2 separate regions of the Homo sapiens genome follow, and region 1 is linked to region 2. Evidence: fine-mapped expression QTL. A gene starts in region 2. The other region holds a variant in brackets. All regions are shown on one strand. Distances are between the middles of the regions.

What was found. PIP is the estimated chance that this variant, and not a neighbour inherited with it, causes the effect. A credible set is the group of variants that fine-mapping cannot tell apart.
Region 1: its variant is the best candidate, but not a certain one, in a credible set for the expression of ADA2 in whole blood (TOPMed, PIP 0.61).

The regions. Positions count from the first base shown.
Region 1 is chr22:17,179,659-17,182,415 of GRCh38, forward strand. It overlaps ADA2 (adenosine deaminase 2), which reads right to left. Exons shown (of 10, transcript NM_001282225.2): 9 at 2,162-2,364; 10 at 1-1,918. The coding sequence ends at 1,825. Among named protein-coding and RNA genes, the nearest start is that of HDHD5-AS1, 22 kb to the left of the region's middle. The variant A/T (reference allele first, on the strand shown) is at 1,387.
Region 2 is chr22:17,217,967-17,220,986 of GRCh38, forward strand. It overlaps ADA2 (adenosine deaminase 2), which reads right to left and starts at 1,469. Exons shown (of 10, transcript NM_001282225.2): 1 at 1,390-1,469. RefSeq lists enhancers at 846-1,206, 1,047-1,116, 1,127-1,256.

The DNA.
Region 1 (2,757 bases), 38 kb before region 2:
AGGACATTTGAGGAAGAAAGGGCCGCCGGGGTTGGGGCCCTCTGGGTGACTGGGAGAGGAAGGCGCCGGAATGGATCCAGATTAAATCGGATGCTGTATGCCCTGTGGAGACATGGGGTGTACCTCTAAACGCACTGCGTTGTAAGCAAAGGAGTGACCTGATTTAATTTGATCTTTTAAAAGTCATTCTAGGCCAGGCCGGGTGGCTCACGCCTGTAATCCCAGTGCTTTGGGAGGCCGAGGCGGGTGGACCACGAGGTCAGGTGTTCGAGACCAGCCTGGCCAACATAGTGAAACCCCATCTCTACTAAAAATACAAAAATTATCCGGGCATGGTGGTGCATGCCTGTAATCCCAGCTACTCAGGAGGCTGAGGCACGAGAATCCGCTTGAACCCGGGAGGTGGAGGTTGCAGTGAGCCGAGATCGCACCGCTGCACTCCACCCTGGGCAACAGAGCGAGACTCCATCTCAAACAAAACAAAACAAACAAACAAAATGTCATTCTACACTGTGAAAAATGAGCTGGAGGAGGCAAAGGGAAGAAAGGGGAGATCAGTGAGGAGGCTGTTGTCATAGCTCAGGCAGGAGTATGGTAGCTTGGACTTGGCAACAGCGTGCAGGTAGAGCACCACCGCTGGAGTCTGGATGCGGGATGCATTCTGATGTAGGGAGTGGGGGACCGCGCAGCATCAAGAAGCCACCGCTGGAGTCCAGATGAGGGATGCGTTCTGATGTAGGGAGTGGGGGACGGCGCAGCATCAAGACTTGCACTGAAAATTTCTGCTTTGAGCAACTGCGTGGAATGGATGGAGGTGTCCTTCACCAGCTATGGGAAAGGCCAGGGAAAGGTTTAAAGGGCTGAGTGTGGTGGCTCATGTCAGTAATCCCAGCACTTCGGGAGACTGCGGCAGGAGGATCACTTGAGTTGGAGACCAGCCTGGGCAACATAGCAAGACACTCTTTAGAAAAATTAAAGTAGAGAAAAAGAAAGGTTTAAAGGGAAGAGACTGAGGGTTCAGAATTGTACCTCATCAGTTTCTGAGATTCCTGTGAGCTCTCCAAGTGCATAAATAAATGTGGGAATCATTAACAAATAAATGGTATGAAAAAGCAAAGGAATGGATGAGACCACCCAGGAAAAGTGTACAGAGAGAGAAGAGAAATAAAGAGGAGAGAGTTAAAGAGACCAGAATAGGCCAGGCATGGTGGCTAATGCCTGTAATTCCAGCACTTTGGGAGCCAAGGGGCGAGTGGATCACCTGAGGTCAAGAGTTGGATACCAGCCTCGCCAACATGGTGAAAACCTGTCTCTACTAAAAATGCAAAAATCAGCTGGGTGTGGTGGCACATGCCTATAATTCCAACTACTCGCGAGGCTGATGCA[A/T]GAGAATTGCCTGAACCCGGGTGGCGGAGGTTGCACTGAGCTGAGATCGCACCATTGTACTCCAGCCTGGGCAACAAGAGCAAAACTCCATCTCGAAAAAATACAAAAATAAAAAAATAAAGAGACCAGAATAGAAGAGAGCCCAGGACTGAGTCCTGAGGAAACAGCACAGAGATCAGAGAGAGGAGAAGACTCTGAAATAGGGAAACTGGAAGAAATGGCCAGAGACAGGAGAAAACCAAGAGGGTCAATGTCACTGTGGCTGAGAGAGAATATTTCCAGAGGATGAATTTGCTCAGCCAGCCAAGTGCTTCTCACAGGGTCGCTCCATACAGAGGCCATTGATTTCATGGGCACATGGAGCTGATTCAAGAACGAGTGAGAGGAAGTGACAGCGTGTGCAAGAAGACAGCTTGTAGAGGGCTGGCTAGCTTCTCCTCACTTTGTAGCCACATCTGCTATGAACTTATCCCATCTCTTCTTCCAGATTTCCATGAAAGTATTTTTCTCACTCTCCAACAGGGTACTGTACCTGCAGGAAGAGGAGGAGCCCAGGTCAGCCTCAGGGCAGGGGTTGGGGAACGGGGCAGGGAGCCTGAGAGGACATTAGAGCCTTGCAGAGCACTCTCCCCAGGCCAGCAGCAAGGACTAAACAGCCATGATGAGAAGGAACCCACAGGAACCATCGAGGCATCTGCCTCAAGCCTCCAGAGAGGCAAACACAAGCTGCGGGCTGGAAGGAGGCGGGGGACCTGGGAGGACACAGGACACTCACTTGATAGAGTTCATGGCCAGCTGTTTGAGGGTCCTCAGGTCAGCCTTCATCCCCCCAATGCCCATGAAGACCTCATAGAAATCATAGGACAAGCCTTTGGCACCAAACATAGCTGGGTCATCAGAGCTGATCACCATGGGGTGCCCAGTGGCCATCAGAGTGGCTACAGGGTGGTTCCTCAAGTCAGACACCAGTTTCAGCACCTGCGCAATAGGAGGGAAGGGAGAAAGATGAACTCTGATCCCTAAAAAGAGTAGTCACAAGTGAGGTGAGACCTTGAGCCCCATCAGCTCCCTTCATCTTCCCATCACTATCTCCCCAGTATGGGGATGACTTCTGGGCAGAGTCACAAGGAGACATAAGGAACAGAGCCAGTCCTTATGCTCCTCCTCATGTTTCATCAGCACTGCAAACATCGGGTCACTTCTGTTCCTGCTCAGAGAAGCGCTAACTGAACACAGACACAAAGGACCCCAAGAAACCATGGGGAGCAGCATCCCATGGTCCGTCCCACTTCACTGGCCTCCCCCCATGTCCTTTTTGCTTTGTCTACAGTCTTGCCCAAAATTCCACCCCACTGGGGACCCTCACTGCTG
Region 2 (3,020 bases):
GCAAATCACTAACGTCTCCAGATCTCAGTGTCCTCACCTACAAAAAAGGTAACTTGGACAAGATCAGTGGTTTTCCAAGTGCAGCATGAATATCATCAGTGGCATAAATACAATCTTAGGTGGCTCACAAATGGATAGGGGTTATGTTGACAGATAGGTAATTTTAAAACATGTATTAGCACATCAAACCCATGATATCGTAACTATTATTGTTTTTGTTGAAAAATTTTTAAGTTAAAGAAAAATATTAAGTAAATAGAGGTGCAAGGATATGACAAAAATGGAAAGTTTGCTACTCATTAAATCATTTTAATATCCAAGATTCTTCCCAGCTCAGTTATTCTGTAGTACATCAGATAGCAAAGAAAATTTTAAGAAGGAACTAGTATCAGCAATATGCAGTTATGGCAGAAGCTGTACCCCCAAAATCAGAGTGCTGGACGTCAGCAGAACCCCTTTAACTTCATTAAGTCCTTGACTCTCTTTTTTGACCACGGTGTTTGCCTGCTACTAAAATCTCTAGGGCAGGAGCACGGTGACTTCTATGTCACCATCCCACCTACCCCATGCCACATTCTCCATCAACAGCCCCGCCCCTTGTCCCTGTCTCCCTGGTGACACATAACAAAGGCCATCAAGCTCCCAAATCTTCAACTCCATCCTCTCCAAGAAGGACCCCAAAAGCATTTGTGTCCCAGCAACTGTGAACTTTTCCAGGCTGCCAGACAGAAGTTTATCTAATGGTGGTCAAGACCTGCCTGGTTGAATACTAGTAAAAACAATCCTTATTCACAATTTATTGCTATATCTACTTCATCTTCTCTCCTCCACAAGATTTTCCTTTTACTTTTAAAAGAGGATGCATGAAAACTTCATAAAGTAGTTTGCTTCCAGACTAAGAAGAAAGGAGGCTGGGTGTGGTGGCTCTGCCTGTGATCCCAGCCCTTTGGAAGGCCGAGGCAGGCAGATCACCTGACGTCAGTCGTTCAAGACCAGCCTGGCCAACACGGTGAAACCCCGTCTCTACTAAAAATACAAAAATTAGCCGGGCGTGGTGGTGGGTGCCTGTAATCACAGCTATTAGGGAGGCTGAGGCACAAGAATGGCTTGAACTCGAGAGGCAGAAGTTGCAGAGAGCCGAGATCGTGCCACCACACTCCAGCCTGGTGACAGTGGAGTAGGCCACATGCATCTGTGGTCCTGAGTAAATGCCCTTGGGCCCATTTTCAAAAGCCTGTTGGGAGAAAGCCTGTTACTCCTCCACTGAGAGTCTCAGACCCAGCTCAGATGGAGACAGGGAGAGGTGCAGGTGGATCAAGCCCAAGCTCCGGACTTCCCAGCTACCTCCTGAACCTCATCATCCCACAGCTCCCAAAGGACCCCAGTTACCTCGGAACAGCTCCAGAAACTGAGGGCTGTTTGCTCAGCGCCCCAGCATCTGTGCAGAGCACCGGAAAAGCTCACCAACTGTTTCACTTCCTGTTGGGGTAGGTTTTATTTCCCTCCAGTGTGCACCAGGGATCCAACTAGAGGCCGGGGAGAGGGGCTCTGCAGTGCTGAGGCAGCCAGAGTGGCAAGTGTGTGGCTTACATGCATGCTTGCTGTGTGCATCTGAGTTTGATGTGGGGGGCTTGTGCGCATGTTCATGTGGGTGTTTGTGTGTTCGTGTGTGTTTCGGTTTATGTGCATGTGGGGTTTGTTTTTTTTTTTTTTTTTTTTTTTTTGTAGACAGAGTTTCACTCTTGTTGCCCAAGCTGGAGTGCAATGGCGCAATCTCAGCTCACTGCAGCCTCCGCCTCCCGGGTTCAAGCAGTTCTCCTGCCTCAGCCTCCCGAGTAGCTGGGATTGCAGGCGTGCGCCACCATGCCCCACTGATTTTTTGTATTTTTAGTAGAAATGGGGTTTCACCATGTTGGTCAGGCTGCTCTCGAACTCCTGACCTCAGGTGATCCGCCCACCTCGGCCTCCCAAAGTGCTGGAATTACAGGCGTGAGCCACCATGCCCGGCCGCATGTGGGTTTATTTGTGTTGGAGGGAGGGTGTGTGTGTGTTTGTGTGTACTGTGTCTTTGAAAGGTCCACAGCATGTTGGTTTTGGAAACAAGCACCGCAAAGAGGCACTCCAAAATCTGTTCATGAACTCTGGGAAGTTCTCCTTCCTCAAAATGTGATTGTGGACTGTGGGGCAACCCATTAGACAGAGAGTAAAAAGTAGCTATAATAAAATATATGTTTTAGGGGGGAAATCAGGGATGCGGGGACAGGACAGTAGAGGGGGCAGGAGGTAGGAGACAAGAGCTGGGGTGTGAAGAGGACCAGCAAGAACAACGCTCCAAGGGACAAGTGGAGCAGACAAGGCTCCTGTACCCAGGACGGTCAGAGTCAGACCTCGCTTTGTAGCTGGCCTTAGCACTGTAGCAGTGGGGCCTCGACCAAGTTGTTTCAACTCTCTATACTTCAGTTTCCTCATCTGAAAATGTGGATAATAAAAGCACCCACCACAGAGGGTCCATTGTCAGAATTAAAGGAAAAACACATGCAAAGTACCTGCCACATAGAAAGCTCTTGATAAATATTAGCCATGACTATTCTTAGAAGTAACTATTGGGATGCCTCATCCAAGCCAATTAGAAATGCAGACATGGGAGGCTACACCAGGGACCTCCATGTCACATGCATGGTCTAAAGACTCGATTGCACCCCACTCCTCCCCAGTCCCACTCAAATCTACCCCCAAGACCCCAAATCTACCCCCAAAAGCCCACGGCAGTTTCAGTTCTGCAGCTCCCATACATCTGGAGCCTTGATGCTCCTTTTTGTCATTTTCTCCAAAAAGTACCAAGGTCATTCATTTAATAAACAGGAAGAAATCCCAAAGTGAAAACACAGAGGGGTCAGGGATTCCCTCATCAAGAGTTCAAGACTAGGCTGGGCTCAGTGGTGCATGCCTGTAATCCCAGCACTTTGGGAGGCCGAGGCAGGTGGATCACAATGGAAGGGGTTCGAGACCAGCCCCTACTA